Linked DNA regions of Homo sapiens: region 2 is linked to region 1. A link means that fine-mapping ties the variant in region 1 to the expression of a gene that starts in the linked region. Tissue or cell type: whole blood. Region 1 holds a variant in brackets; the other region holds the start of a gene. All regions are shown on one strand. Distances are from middle to middle.

What was found. PIP is the estimated chance that this variant, and not a neighbour inherited with it, causes the effect.
Region 2: it holds the start of NCOA1, and the variant in region 1 is fine-mapped to the expression of NCOA1 in whole blood (INTERVAL, PIP 0.99).

Annotation. Positions count from the first base shown.
Region 1 is chr2:24,817,881-24,825,939 of GRCh38, forward strand. It overlaps CENPO (centromere protein O), which reads left to right. Exons shown (of 8, transcript NM_001322101.2): 8 at 1,474-4,496. ADCY3 (adenylate cyclase 3) reads right to left here. Exons shown (of 22, transcript NM_004036.5): 17 at 6,498-6,656; 18 at 5,329-5,475; 19 at 4,631-4,750; 20 at 3,637-3,760; 21 at 2,844-2,968; 22 at 1,289-2,234. The coding sequence ends at 2,052. Among named protein-coding and RNA genes, the nearest start is that of CENPO, 28 kb to the left of the region's middle. RefSeq lists enhancers at 4,086-4,629, 4,630-5,174, 7,586-8,059. The variant C/T (reference allele first, on the strand shown) is at 4,446.
Region 2 is chr2:24,487,479-24,495,594 of GRCh38, forward strand. NCOA1 (nuclear receptor coactivator 1) reads left to right here and starts at 3,776. Exons shown (of 23, transcript NM_003743.5): 1 at 3,776-4,124. RefSeq lists silencers at 3,429-3,768, 3,746-3,904, 4,059-4,548.

The DNA of each region.
Region 1 (8,059 bases):
ACTGTCTGATGAAGGGTACATCACCCTTCTGATGAAAACAGACACCTACCTGTTCATCTGGATGGAAGAGCAGGTTTGAGTATAGACACTGGCATTTTTGAACAATTCCCATGATCACCTGGTCCCTTCTTAAAATGCTCAAGATGTTTTTTAAAGGTATTAGTTGATCATACATTTTAGTTGAAAATCATTTGTGGGGCAATAAAAGCCATTTTTTGAAAAAGGTGTATCACTCAAGAAGTACTTATGGAAAAATATCAAATTATTGAGGGCATTAACTCTGGGAAAGACCAGGCAATTAAGTTGTCACAGTAACTGCTACTAATTTAATGCCAGGAATAGAGATGCCAAAAATCCTAAAATTTTCAGAAAGGGCTCTCACAGAAATGTAGCACTCCACTCAAACTGCAATAGCTTGATTCTGTTGAGAAACACTGATCTAAATAAATGGAAAAATAACCCACATTCACTAATGAAGATAATAAGGAAGACCCAATATTTTTTTTTTTTTAAAAGGAAAGTATTTTTAGCTTTTATGAAAGCTTTAAGTAATTTTTCCTCATTTTCCTGTTTGAAACTTTTGAAAAGGAAGTTCTTCAGTGTTTGTTTGGTTAGGCGCAGTGTATTCTAGGCCACTGCTTTATAAATATGGTGTGAGAAAGCAGTAGGATAAAATAATCAGAGTTCAGTGTGTCTCATATTTTGTTTCCTAAAAGTTTAGTAGAGCTGTGAATGTACTAGGAAGTCCCCTCTGAAAAAGCACAGTTAGTTAGTTAGAAATCTGCCCATTAACTCAGGGGGACTCAGGCGCCCCCCGGGTCTTCCCTCTCCTGCAGGCTCTCCGGTTAGTGTCCTGATTTGCCGTAACCACGGGCCTCTGACCTGCTGGCACCTCTGGTTCCTTGGCGTGTGGGTCACTCACAGATATGAAAACCTGTGTCTGGCTGACCAGGTTCTCCTGTAGCCCTCCCTTGCCCAGGCACAGATAGGAGTCATGACTGGCCCAAGGCCACGTTCAGACTTAACCCTGCAATGGCCACGAAGTAACCTCCGTGTGGGAGAGCTCCAGGAACAGTGCAGGGGATTAAAGCCAGCTTGGAGTACCCTTTAGAAGAAAGTTTAAGAATAAAAGAGACAGGGCCAGGCAGCAGGCGTTCCGGGGTACAGTGAGCTATGATGAGACCTTCAAGCTCTTGCCTTCCAGGCCTGTGGTGGGGACCAGTGGCATGAGTCAGCAAAGTACCAGCACTCCTCAGATAAGTGATATTAACAGAATTTCCACAATCACTTTCAAGTTGAATAAAGCTTTTAATAAAACAGTCTTGTTCTTTATCAATACCTGTAAATTCTCTTAAAGCAGTAGCAAAGGCGACTGTAGCAAGAGCTCAAAAGGCAAGGCAATATCGGAAAGTGTATTTAACAGAAGATTAAAAATATAAATGTAGAAGATCTGTTTATATATTTTTCTTTCAGAAATAAATCCCCCCTCCCCTGCCAGGTGAAAGGAAATATTGCACTTTCTGTTCTCATGACTAAGGGGACAGGAGTTCCAGAAGAACCTTTCAAGATGATCAGGAACACCAGGACGAGGGCCGTCTCACCTCACTCGGACCACATGGAGACCTCCCTTCAAAATGGGAGCCATGTCCTGCCCCACCAAGCCCTGTCTGAAGTGGAGCTTCCCCGCCTGTGCTCCCTCCACAGTCCCGGAAAGCCCAGCGGCAAAGGCAGCTTTGTCCCAGCTCTGCCACCCTCCTGCTCACAGTGGTCAGGGCCCCTCAGGGGCAAGGACGGCAGGGATTGGAACGAGGGCTCTGGAAGGACTGTTCAGCCCTATGCCTAAGACCCCTATGCTGGGGACACTACAGGCACACACAGGAATAGCAGGGCCACCCTCAGAGCTCACACATCCACGAACAAATGAAGGCTGAGGAGGTTTCTAAACCTAAAGTCCATGAGTGTGCACTTCAATCCAGGAAGGTCGGGACTTCCTTCAGTTTCAAAAAATAAATTCTCCCTTCCGGTTTGGACTGTTGCAGGCTCGAGGCCATTCAGGAGTTGTCCACCACCTGGTGGGGCAGTGTGACAGAGGGGCCATTGGGGAAGGTGGCTAGCTTATCCCGCCCCTTCAAGAAGAAGGTCAGCAGCTCCCCCTTCCCCTTCACAAAGATGGGGCCTCGCCTCACAAAGCGGAAGCCGTACTCTCGGAGGATGACTTGGGTTTCTTCTACCACCTGGAGAGGGAGGGGGAGCAAGAACGTGGCGTTACGGGGGGAGCCTAGACTGAGGGCGGGTGGGGGCTTTGGGTGGTTGGAGCCGAGCACTGATCCATGGGTCCCAAGCAGTACGGGACACTCCCCAAACCTCCCAGGGCCAAGCCCTTCCACCCGTGGCGAGCAGCGGGTGGGAAGGAGAACCCTGGAGTGACTGGCTGGGGGCCTCCTCTCATCCAGAGACTTCTCTCCTAGGATGGCCATGGTCACCTGGGTGGCAGCACTGTTACCTGGAAACTGCCACTGCCTGCTCTTCTGTCCCTTTGCCCCTTTCGTGGAGCTTTTCTGCCAGACGCCACTGAGACAGATCACAAGGTATTAGAAGGTTCATACCCAAAGGTAGGCCATATGCATCTAGAACTTCAGCCCAGATTTTGTGGATGGGTGGAAGTGTTTCTTCCTGTGCTGAGGCTAGCTATTGCAGAGATTCTTTTCCACTTGCCCCACGTCTCTGCCTCTGGACTTACTGTTCAGGGCCAGGGTGGGAGGCAGGGGCACGTGGGAAAGCACTGTTCCGGTTTTGTTCTCATGCCGAGTCTGAGCACGTGCCAGCTGTGCCACTGGACATACCTGAATGTTGCCCATGACCCCCGTGGACTCCATCCTGCTGGCTACATTGACTGTATTGCCCCAGATGTCGTAGTGTGGTTTCCGGGCTCCGATGACCCCAGCCAGAACCCCGCCTTTGTTCATGCCTAGGGTAGAGGCATAAAGTTCAGCACAGCCACAGGCCACACCTTGTTATGGGCCTCAGAAGCCATCTCCTCTCCAGACCTGTACCACAAAGCTCCTAATGTAACACATCATTGTCCTCATTCAACTTGGCTGTATGCTATTGGAGGGTGGAAATCACATCTCCTGTTTATCCGTGTGCTTGTTAGGTGTCAGCCGCCACCCCCCCCCCATATGCAGATTTACTCGGCATGGTAGTGGCCAGCTTCTAACACAGCTGGTATTTCAAGTCTCCTGGGACCTCACTCAGGAATGATACCCCCTCAGTAGAAGCAGCAGGTGATCTTAACTCCTTTCAAAGAGCAGGCCTGTCTGGGAAGCCATGTCCTCAGCAGGCACAGCAACCCCTCTGGAAATGGATCACAAACTCACTTCTCAGCCAGGCAGGCCAAGCTTCTATTGTAACAGTAGGCACAGTATAGTCGGATCATCACATCAGCTGGGTTTTTGGTTTAGTCATCTAGAGTCGTCTGGACTAAAGGTCTTTCAGGTCTCCTTGCCCTGTGAGTGCGTGAACCTCCCCACCCGAATTGCCTCAGTTGTCCTGAGCCTCATGTCTCTCCTGGTGGTGGGCCAGGCCCCTGCATGGGAAGGGAGCCTGCTGCGGGGCAGGCCAGCTGGGGGTGCTCACCTATGCGCAGCATGAAGTTATTGAAGGACTGGTTGTTGATGTTGGTGAGCGTATCCTTCATGGCCAGCGCGAAGTCGGCCAGGTCAGCCAGGTGCTGCCAGCGCTCTCTCTCGGACTTGTCTTCCTGTGCCAGGGGACCGTGGAGAAAGTGTCAGGGGCCGCTCACTGCAGCAGCCTGCTCTGCTGCCTTCCCTGGCAGTGTTCTGGGGGTGGATTCCCTACACCTAGATGTTCAAGGCCTTACTTTTCCTCCCACAAAGGAGTCGCAGCCACGCTAGCTCTGACTTGCCACTGTGACAAAGTTCACGTAGCAGGTCTAGGCAAAGACTGGGCAATTGAGCAGAGGAGACGGACCTGTGAGTCTGACCACGAGGCGGACCCCTTCACCTTGGCTGGGCCTGGTCCTGGTCCTTAGGTTTTGTCAGGTTGTCCTTGTTTGGATCCCTCAACTAGGTGATAAGCACTGGAGGGGGATGACCCGCCTTGGACGTGTTTCTTTAACCTCATCCATATAATAGGGCCGTGGGATGGTTGTAGAGGTAAAGCAGGATGATGGTGTTTTAAGACCAGAGCTTGGGACCAGGGCTCCTACACCTAATTTTCTCTCCTGGTAGCTGAACAAAGGTCTAAATTAGCTTAACAAAAGAACAGGCTGCCGTCAGCCAGAGTTCTGAAGGCCATGCTTTCAGTTTCCCTTGTTGACAATTGCTCTCCAGTTCCTATGAAAGCACAGAGCCTTAGGGGGCCTGGCCACAGAACACAACCATCTTAGGCCTGAGCTGTGAACAGCAGGGGGTTGTGTGTCTGTT[C/T]TGTTTCTCTGCTTGCCGAACTTTCTCAATAAACCCTATTTCTTATTTATATTTACGTGGTGCTGGTGGTGTGTGTCTGGGACCACTTTGCACAGCAGTTCTTATTTCCCCCATGCTAGGTCTGGGCTGCCAATCTCTTGCCTTGGGGGCAGAGCCTCATCTCTCTGGCTACTGGGGTTAGCTACCTTGTTGGAGCTGGCAAAGCCATTGGTGTTGACATCGGGGGTGACTCCTGAAGCCGCCATATACGTGCTGCCAATGGTTTTGATCTTGGTGATCACCCGGAACTTGGGATTGTCCAGGAGCTGAGGCCAGGATTCAGGAAAGAATTGTCAGCAGTCAAGGGAGAGGAATGACCCAACCCAGTGACAGATGTACCTGTTTACAAGGACCCCACTAAACCCAAGAGACACTTTCCTATCAAAGTTGTTACTTAGTCTACCGCTTATCTGCCACATGATCCTGGGAGAACTTCCTAACTTTCTGGGCCTGTTTCCACAACCTCAACACTGACATAAAATCGGCAGTCTCCTAGGGGGGCTCCGCGCGTGTGTAAAAGCATTCTCCCTGGTATACAGGTCACCCAGTCAATGCTGACCGGCTCTGAATTTGAGGAGACAGTCCCAGGACAGAGAGGTCTCGAGATGTTGCTTGGCCAGTCCTTATCCTTATCCTGTGACCCTGTGGGTGATTTCCCGGGCTCCCACCTCACCTCCCCTTCCCCAGCCCAGCAGTTCCAGGTGGCTGCAGAAGTCCATGTATTGCGGAAGGGGCTTATCTGGGAAAATGAAGCCAGTTTCTCTGGCCTCTGCAGCCTATTGTAGGATGTGATGTGGAATGGGCCGGCTTCATGGCCAGAGTGCAGGGTGGGATGGGCACTCACAGAGTCAAAATCTGAGATGATTTCATTGAGGAAACGCAGACACTCAATACCACCATTGTTGATGCTCTCCTCTGTGTAGAAGTCAGCAAAGTTGGGCAGGGAGGCAAACATGACTCCAATCTCATCATACGTCTGGCTATACAGCTCCTAAAAAGAGGTGCGGACAACGTGCTCAAAGCATGTCCGACTGACTGGATGATGTGTTGGAGAAATGCATCTATCTTCCATGCATGACATGTGCACTCAGCTTTTTGGACTCACACATCAGTCAGATTATTCCAGCATTTTTTTTTTTTTTTTTAAGAGTGGGTCTTGCTGTGTTTCCCAGGCTGGAGTGCAGTGGCAGTAAACAAGCACAATTAGGTATGATCGAAGCACACTGCGGCCTTGAACACCAGGTATCTGGGACCACAGACACATGTCACCATGCCCGGCTGTAGATTATTCCAACTCTGAATAATTTAAAAATAGCTCATCGCTACTTTTTTTTTTTTTTTTTGAGAGATGGAGTCTTGCTGTGTCACCCAGGCTGGAGTTGAGTGGCACAATCTCAGCTCACTGCAACCTCCACCTCCCGGGTTCAAGTGAGTCTCCTGTCTCAGTTTCCCGAGTAGCTGGGACGACAGGTGTGCACCACCGCGTCCAGTTAATTTTTGTATTTTTTAGTAGAGACAGGGTTTCACTATTTGTTGCCCAGGCTGGTCTCAAACTCCTGACCTCAGATGATCCACCCGCCTCGGCCTCCCAAAGTGCCGGGATTACAGGCATGAGCCACTGTGCCCGGCCACTACTTTGAATAAATTTTAAAACAGCTTCTCTAGTTCCTCTAACAGCCCCAGCTGTGAAGACGAGGGTACCGTAGAGCTGGGAACCACTCTGTTTGGAGAAGTTCACAGGCAACAGAAAGGTGGGCTCTAGCCAAAGTCTTGTCTTCTGACACATGGCCTCAGAGCTGTACGGCCCACATCACGATGCCTACAGCAGTGCACTTTATAAGAGGCCGGAGAAATTCCTCTTTTGCTTATTTGTGTTTGCTGTTTAGGTTCAGCCCTACCTAGGCCCCAGTCCCCTGTCCCTGAGAAGGCCTGGGCCCAGCGGGGGCTGCCTGAAAGAAAGAACAGATGGAGACAAATGGCCTCATGGTTCCGGGCTGAGACCACACCCCTCACCTCATCTCTCTTCTTGGACCCCAGGAAATGGCGTGCCACGTGCTCAGGCAACATGTTGGTGACCAAGGCCTCGTTCCAGCGTCGCATCTCATAGACACGTTCCTTCTGGTCGTGGACCTCAATCTTCCACAAGAAAAGTGTCCGTGCCAGTTTTTCTACCTACAGACACAGACAAGGCGAGGCATGTGCTCTAAGCTGGCCACTGGATAGAAGGATGAAAAACAGGAATGGCCAGGCGTGGCGGTTCATGCCTGTAATCCCAGCACTTTGGGAGGCCGAGGCAGGCGGATCACCTGAGGTCAGGAGTTCGAGACCAGCCTGACCAACATGGTGAAACCCTGTCTCTACTAAAAATACAAAAATTAGCCGGGCATGGTGGCGGGCACCTGTAATCCCAGCTACTCGGGAGGCTGAGGCAGGAGAATCAACTTGAACCCAGGAGGCAGAGGTTGCAGTGAGCCGAGATCGCACCACTGCACTCCAGCCTGGGCAAAAGAGTGAGACTCAGTCTCAAAAAAAGAAGAAAAACAGGAACGTGAATGGAGGAACTCCCCTTGGAAAGGCTGGAAGGAAGATGGCTAAATGGCAAGGGAAGTAAGACCCTGCAAAGATTGCACCTCATCAAAAGGCCACCCAATAGTGGTGCGGTTCCCAGCCTCCGTAATTACAGCAGAGATCCAGGAGGCCTTCCGTGTGTAGGGGGCCTCTTGGGACCTAATTTCAGCTGCAGGTCTGTCTCGTGGAGGTGGCAGCAGTGGGGATCTCCCAACTCAGGGTGGAGTCCCCCTTTCTAGCAGGCGCCATTTGGGTAAGAAGTGGCTTGGGAAGGCTGTACTTCCCTGGAAAGCCAGTAGGGGGCACTTGAACTAACATTGGGCCCTAAGTACAGAGGATCTTTCTCTTCCCTCTCTTCCTTCTCTTTTCCTTTTTTGTCCGGTTGAGTGCGGTGGTTGTGGCGGGGGGGGGGGGGGTGCGGGGGGGGTGTCTCACTTTGTCACCCAGGCTGGAGTGCAGTGGTGTGATCTCAGCTTACTACAGCCTCAACCTCCTAGATTCAAGCAATCCTCCTGCCTCAGCCTCTCAAGTAGCTGGGATTACAGGTGCGGGCCACCATGCCTGGCTAATTTTTGTATTTTTTAGTAGAGACAGGGTTTCACCATATTGCCCAGGCTGGTCTCAGACTCCTGGACTCAAGTGATCCTCCACCCTCAGCCTCCCAAAATGAGCCACTGCACCGGCCTTCTCTTTTCCTTTTAACCCAACAGAAAGTCCATCAGCTCCCTTCTCTTTCTCTTCTGGCTCTGTGGTCAGTTGTGTTAATGTCCCTCAGCGCCACGGGGAGTGCGGGGGCCATGAGCCCCTGGCCTAGGGGATATTGATTTGATTCAAGATGTTTGTGCCTTCACTCTATCCCCTCCCACCTTCACTCCCATGCTTCCTTCACCATCCTGGAGGGGGTCGGACGGAAGAGGTGAGGAACTGTCTTCCTGTGTGACTGAGGAAGGAGCCTGAATAGAGAAGGCGGTGGCCTGACCAGGCTCACGTGTGGGGCTGGGTGAAGG
Region 2 (8,116 bases), 330 kb before region 1:
GATTGAAACAATTTTCTGGAGGCCAGTTTGGTAAATAATGTAGTAAAAAAATTAACATGTACCCTTTGAGCCAACAATTAATCTTCTAGAAATTTAAAGAAAATAATTTCTAAACTGCACGGAGGCATGCATTAGAATTACAGCATGATTTACAAAAATATACAAACAAAAATACAGACAATGTAAACATTTTTAGTAAGGAATTAAATGGCTAAACAGATACACAATGCAAGAGTATTTAACTATTAGGATGAAAATACATTGTACAGTAAAAGGCACCAGATTACTGATGAGCATTTATCATGTGATTTTATTTTATTTATTTTATTTTTTTGAGATGGAGTCTCACTCTGTTGCCCAGGCTGGAGTGCAGTGAGGCGATCTTGGCTCACTGCAGCTTCTGCCTCCTGGGTTCAAATGATTCTCCTGCCTCAGCCTCCTGAGTAGCTGGGATTACAGGCACCCACCACCACACTGAGTAGAGACAGAGTTTCACAATGTTGGCCAGGCTGGTCTTGAACTCCTGACCTCAGGTGATTCGCCTGTCTCGGCCTCCCAAAGTGCTGGGATTACAGGCGTGATTTTATTTTTATGTAAAATTGACTACATATAGTGTATTTATATGTGCAAATATATATAGAGAAAGGTGTGGAAACATGTTTACTATGTTTCTCTCTGGCTTGAAAAAGTTTATTTTTAAACTTTTTGTGCTGTTCTTTATTGACTGAATATTTTGTGAGTCTGTATCAATTATTATAAAACAAAAAACTATTTGAAAAAAAGAATGTCAAAGTTAAATCAATTCTTGCCTCAGTAACTGGAGTAATTTCATGCACACTAGCCATATATTTTATAGAACTGGAAATCTATTATGCTCTGGAGAAAATCCAACAGGTATGTTCTAGATTTTGCCCGTAGAACTAGGCTGTTTCTAGTCCACCAAAGGATTATATTAATTTATGGAAACAATAGGGTTTGGACTAAAACCAGTTCTATCTGGGCTATAAGAGTTAAATGTTGTCTTACATTTTTATTTATAAATATCTTCAAAGCATTTTCATTTAATTGGAGTTAGTCTTCCTTGTTGATTGGCATTGTATTTTGGGAGTAAATAAATTTTAAATAGCTAAGGTAAATGGATTTTAGAGAGGCTACTTGTACAGTCACGAAGTAAATCTAATGAATCTTTTGGCCCTATATTTAGGGTTGCTCGGGTGGATTAGTAAAATGGGCCTGTTTAGTAAAAGTAGATGGAGTCTGAGAGAAGTTGAGTATGACCAGAGAAAAGATTACCAATTGGAGACATAAAAGGGTGTTATAACTGCTTTGACAAGTGATTATGACTTGTAGAGGAAGGAGAAAAAAGTCAAAGAGTTATTATTTAAGAAACATTACCAGGCGCAGTGGCTCATGACTGTAATCCCAGCACTTTGGGAGGCCGAGGCTGGTGGATAACCTGAGGTCAGGAGTTCAAGACCAGCCTGGCCAACACGGCGAAACCCTGTCTCTACTAAAAATACAAAAAATTAGCCGGGCGTGGTGGCGGGTGCCTGTAATCCCAGCTACTCGGGAGGCTGAGGCAGGAGAATCACTTGAACCCAGGAGGCAGAGGCTGCAGTGAGCTGAGATCGCGCCACTGCACTCCAGCCTGGGCGACAAGAGCGAGACTCTGTTTCAACAACAACAAAAAAGAAACAGTACCATTCTAGAAAAGAACTCTCTCTTTAGCATACATGGATGGTTATGGCAATATAAATTAACACCTAAATAATTTGTCATTCAACAAAATCTTAGCACTGTGTGTCTTGAGGATATTTTAAAGTTAATTACGACCCCGGGCTGCAGAGTGGGAGATTGGAAGAAGGAAATTCAGGAGTTGTTTTGTTAACAGTTGAAGCTGTGGAAATAAACAGTCAACCGAAGCCAGAGGAAAGGAAGGAAAAAAATAAAACCTTGAGGATACCAACATTTTTTATGGCCCCGTAAAAAAGGAGCAGCCCAAGAAAAGTGCAAACGAAGGCAAGTTCAGAAATCAGGTAGAGAGACTCATATTGAAGACAAGGGAGGAGAGTTTCAAAAAGGAGGAGTTAGCAGTATCACGTGCTGTAGAAAGGCCACACGACAGTAGGACTGAAGTGGCCACTAGATTTGGCCTTCAGCACTTACTAGAGTCTAGTGGAGACAGGAGTACCTTGCACAAGTGGCTCATTTGTTGGCACCAGAGGCTAGAACAAGGCACTTTCACACAGTCTGCATTGGACTAGATTGGGAAGTAGGCCCTACATTAGGGGACGAAACTCATGAGTGCCCGGGTATTTTCAGCTATTATTGGGGATAGGGACTCTGCGGGTGGCTAGAGGTACTGCTAAGCCAGAGCTCAGGAGATGCACCTAGGGCCCCAGTAGTAGGTCTCCGATAAGAATCAGGGGAATGAATATATAAATGAATGAATATATGAATGCATGTGGGGGTGTGGTCTAGCGATTACTTTATGAGCGTGACAAGGATAGGAAGAGGATGGTGAAAGCATACAGTAGTACCTGCCTGTGAAAGAAGCTGCCCGTCGACTCAGAGAGCTGCCACGGAGATTGGTGTTTTCAAGGCTGTCAGGTTCCCCAGTTGGGAGAAGGGTGGGAAGGGCTTAAGGATTTACAGAGATTGATTTAGGGGAGAACACACAGGAAGCGAAACAGCAGGAAACGCCGGGAGACAGCAGCAGCAGGACAGGATTGAGGAAGGGTAAGAGTGCGAAATGGGGTAAGAATAAAAGAAAGGAATGGACAGATGTATGCTTTACAAGGCACTTCCACGGCGAGTGACTCATTCATGCTTAGGACAACCCAGGGAGAGACATAGGTATATATTGCATTGCCAGCCTTTGGAATGCGGGATGCGGTCCAGATAAGGCCATCGCAGCTCAGAGAGGCTGTTCAGCCGCTGTTCGATTCCTCTGGTGACAAGAACACTCTACTTTTGGAAGTAGCACTTCTATTAGAGAAGTTAAAAAAAAAAAAAAAAGAAAAGGGAGATAAGAAGAAAGGTGTGGGCCCCTTGAGGGGAAAGATCTGTGAATGACAGACATTTTAGATAATTCATGGAATTGCAGAGCCAGAACGGGTCAGGCAGATCTTTTCATCTGTAAAACGAAGGGGGCAGACGATCTTCCTTTTCTCTTGTCTAATAGCCTGTGAAATCATCTAGGCAACCACCTCCCAATTTTACAGAATAAAAAACGAGGCCCGCGGGATATGTCTCGCTCAAAGTAACAGAACGCCCGAGTGGAGGGACAGGCCCGGAGCCGACTCCGCCCCGTCCGCAGGGCCTCTCGCCGCTCCGACACCTTCCCAGAAAGATAAAGAACAGCGGGAGGCGGCAGGCCCGGCGGCCTAGCTGCGAGCGCCCTGGTGTTCGAGGCCGCTTCCCGGCAGCAGTGGGAGGAACGCCCCGAGGGGAGGGCAGGAGAGGGGCGGGGAGGAGTTGAGACGGGCGGGGAAGAGTTCGGGCCTCCTTTCCCACACTTCGTTAGGACGCCGGCTGGGGCGGGCCGGCAGAGGGCGCGGGGCGGTTCCTCGCTCGGCGGGCCCGGCAGGCCCGGCGGGCTGGGGGCGCGCTGTCCCGGGCGCACTGTCGGAGCTCGCGGGCACCGGGTCGCGGCGGCCCGGGCGGCCGGAGCCGGCAGGGGAAGTGCGGCGGGCGGGCAGGCGGGCGGCCGGGAACGGGCGGGGCGGGGCGGGGCGCGAAGGGGGCGGTGCCGCGAGCGGGGGGCGGTGGCGGCGGCGGCGGTGGCGGCCGAGGAGGAGAACATGGCGGCCGCGGAGAGCGGCTGAAATGCCTGTTCTTCAGGCCGGGCGAGCGGGAGTCTGACGCGATTTGCTGAGCTCTGTCCTCCGACGGCTGCCTCGCGGCCTTGAGGGCCTCCGCCGCCTGTTCGCTGCTGCTCCCTCGAGCGGAGCCTGCGTCAGGTTCCCTCTGCATCCCCCTGCGGGGGGACCCCTGCTCCGGAGGAGGGGGCCGGAGAGCCGCGGCGCCGGGCCCGAGGAGCGGCGGAGGCCGGGGCGGCGCCGCCGCCACGGTCGCGGACGAGTGCGGCGCCGGTGAGCGGGGCCCAGAGGCGGCGGCGGCAGGTGAGTGGCGGGCTGCGGGTGCGGAGCCTCCCGGTGGGTGCAGCTGTCACGAGCCGCGCGGCCGCGGAGGCCCTAGGGGGCGGGGAGCAGCTGGCGCCCCTCCGCCCCCTGCTCTCCTTTCTCCCGCTCCATCCTCCTCCCACTTCCCCGAGTTCCCCTCGCGGCCCGGCGCGGCTGGAGGGGGCGGAGGTCGCAGCTGTCACGGGCACCAGCTGGGGGCTGCTCCCCGCCGGGGGAAATCGCTGCAGCAGCGACTTCTCTCCGCCTCTTTTCCAGTTGCCCTAGTTAGCGCGGAGAGGGCGAGCATCCGCGGAGGGGGTGCGAGCTGCGCGGCCGCCTGCCCGGCGTGGGGAGCGGGCGCCCCGGGCCGCCGCCGAGAGGGGGAGCCGGAAGTCGGCGCGGGCGCCCCTCGGCCCCGACGACGCCGTGACCTTGGCCGGCCCGCTCACCTCTCGGAATCTCGCCTGCCGGGACCGCGAAATGGGGGCGACCGCGGCGTCCCTCTCCGTCGGCGCAGCCCTCGACGGCGCTTGGGTTTGACCCCGGCGCGCTTGCTCGCCCCTTCTCCCGAGAAGGGGTTTCGGAGGTAGACATGGGATGGATACTGGACATGTTCCTGTCGCGGCCCGGGTTTGGTCCCCTTCCTGGGATTCAGCCGAAAGGGCCGAGGAAGGGAAGCAAACATGTTGACGAGGCGATTGGGAGGTGGGGTTGGTTAGTGGGCAGTGACAGAATTCGGGCCGCTCTCTAGTCCCTTGTAAAAGACCTGAAAAAATCGGACACCCAGGGTCTCCAGTCCTTACTACCCAGCTGTGGTGGCTGCTTTTTTATTTTATTTAAAAGCAGTTACCCCCATGGGTAGACACTGCCCAGTCTGACGACGTTAGAGGGAGACGGAGGGGTTGACAATACAGCCTGTGTGTGTGTGACAAGGACAGGCCACGGTGTTGTGTCCGGAGAGTTTCATGGGGAGGAAAACTTTAAGCTGGAGGATCTGTTAGCCTCTCATGCTTGGCCCTCCTCGTTTCTTGTAGAGGTGTTGAACAGGCAGGTGTCCTTGTGCAGAAGGTGACATTTTTTCTTCGGAGACGGTGAGTTTTTAATGTCGAGTGTGATGTTGGTGAGTAAAGGGTTCTTGAGTGAATTGCAGTCCCAGCACCCTCTGTGGATGCCAAGAGGAATCTCTGTGGCGATGATTTGTGAGGGCTGGTGCTTACATTTCAGTGATTAAGAAATCAAGTGTCTGCTTAAAACATTACTGCCGTGAAGCGTAGATTATATGATACAGTTGAGGGATGGATCTCAAGGGTTAAATTTGTTTGAGGTTTGTCTCCTCTTCTGGAATTGGTTGGAGGCTAGTCTCAAAAAAAAAGCAAACAAAACAACAACAATAACAACGAAAGTTGGCCAGAGGGGCCTCCTATGATGTTGTAGGAAGGGGGTCGGATTTCTTCATGTTGAGAATAATGTGAAAAGAAAGTATTTGCTTAGGTCTCTTGGATCTTCAACTAGAAATAGTTTTGGGTTAAAGGTAGCAGTGGGGTTTGATTCAGCTTAACAAATAGGCATTCCTTGAACTATTTGCCATAAATTAGATAAAATGGAAGTGTTTCTGTTTTATCTCCTGTACTTTGTGGAAAGGTCTAATTTGGTTTTGTGAACGAATGTCCGAAATGTTTTATATTTCTTCTTCAGACTCTATGCTTTGGGAACAGTGGGTCACAGAGAGGGTCTGAGTTGGGAATATATGGTTTAGAGAGAAAATAGAGGACTGCTGCTTATAAGAACAGGTGTTTAGTTTGATTTTTGTAGATATTTTCTACTGGTTATTTAACAACATTGAAGTTTGCTTTATAAGGTGCAAAACGTGAATTTTACGTAGCTTACACTTGATCTCTTCCTTATTTCTCTCAGAAAACCTGTAGGATTGTGCCTATTAAATTGCTTTTTGTGTGGTTTAAACCAAGAGAGTATTTTAGATCTGCAGTGGTTTTATTGGAAAAAAAAAAAAAGTGCTTGATGGAGCTAATGGTGATTGTTTCACTTAAACTAGGATTATATAGACAATGCTTCTTCCTGCCTCTTTCTGCGAACATTTGTTTTTGTTTCTCCCTCAATTCCAGGGTTTCATTTCTAGAAATCTGGGCTGCAAACAGAAGCAGCAGTTTGTATAATCCCAAGAACTTGCTTATGCCAGGAAGCTGTAAGGGTAGCATGAAGCGGGTGTGATGTAAAGACACTGCTACTACTTAAGACATTTAACTGTTGAGGGAGTCTAAGGTCAAACTTTAATTTTTGTTGAATTTCCTGTTTTCTGCTTATGTGTTAATCTTTTGGTGGGCAGAAGATTGGGTTGCTATGGTGCTAACTGGTGTATATTGTGAAAGTGCTGGCAACATTTCATGCTTTTACTCTATAGGGAAGGGTGGTAAACAAGCCTAAATAATTTAAAGATGTTGTTCTCAGAATGGAATGTTCTGTGCATGTCTTCTTGATCCTGCTAATCCAGTGAGCGGTCTTCACTAGGACTAAATGTTGAGTAAGTGATGAGGGTGGTATAGAGGTGCTGAAAGGTGGAGTGGTGGAGAGAGGGTATTGGGCATTTTCTTGAAATTCTTTTCCCCAATTCTGTATAGGGAATCTGTATACTAGACTGTGATTTATAATTGTTTTTCAAGGATGTTTTAGTTCTCCCTGCTTGGTTGTCATCAATTTCATATACCTCCTCTTAGATACTACCTCTGTTCCGTACTTTAGTTTGTCTTTTTTGCTGCGTCTCCCAAGGACTCCACATTGTTTGAATGTTATGTTGCATATCTTATGGAGTTGGCTGGCCTTAAGCCATGTGGCTTAACATAGTTTTCATTATAGGGCAGGTGTGGGAGGTCAATACAACGCACAACACGGAGTAAAATCTAAGTCATGGAGCATAGGAGATCCCCGGGACGCTCATGATTGTTTTGGCATTGGTTTTTGCCTTTTAAATATGATTATAACAGAAATTCTCAGAGGACCATCAGCTGCTTTCCTGGCAGAGGTCCAAAAATGTTTTGGAGGGTTCCATTTTGCATTACTTGCAAATATTGGATGCTGTGGTCGGTGTGGGCTCGGGTGAAATCCATGTGTTTCAGGAGGTGGATGTCAGAACACTGTATCTGATCTGGGCTGCAGAACCGTATAAATTTCTCCCTATCTTAGATTAACTTTCCTACCCATTTGGGAAGACTAGACTGTAGGAAAGGACTTTTTAAAATTGCTTCTTTCCCAGATTAGCAGTAGTTTAGCCGTTGGTGATTGGCAACTAAGGATAGGCCTCATGTTCTATTCTTAACATTGAAGATGAGGTCTAGTCATTTAAAACCTTTCCTTTTCTCTTTATATTTTAGTTAGACCTTGTGCCTTTCAACATTTGGTGTCAGAGGTCATAAAATGGCCTAGTGGCAACTAGGTACCAATGTTGGTTGCTTCATTTCATAAGGAGATGAAGGTGTTTTTTTTTTGTTTTTTTTTTTTAATAGCTTAGTTCTGGAAAATGGTTTGTGGGCTATAGTATTTGGATTAATGTATAGAAATGATTATTATATATTTCTGCAGGATACATGGCTGAATAAGGGAAATTATTATAAAACGCTGATACCAACATATAAGTCCAATTCCATAAGTTTAAGTAAAGTGAGTTGTATCCATGCTTCTTCCCCCATAACCCCATCTGCAACACAGAATTTTTGAGGCTCCTTGGAGTGATAGGCTTTTAGAAAAGCTTAGTATGGTTATCATATTTAAAAGATAAGTAGCTTATGCCAAAATAGAAGCTCTAGTCACTCGAGGAGTTATGGAAGACTCACCCTCATCTTGGATATATTTTGTTCTTACCACTCCCCGAGAGTATGTTTTAGTGTGTGGAGGGCAGGGATGTTTGGTTTTACTGAGTAGCCCTGACCTGACCATTAGGCACAGACAGGCCAGACTCATAAAAATAGGTGCAAGCACGG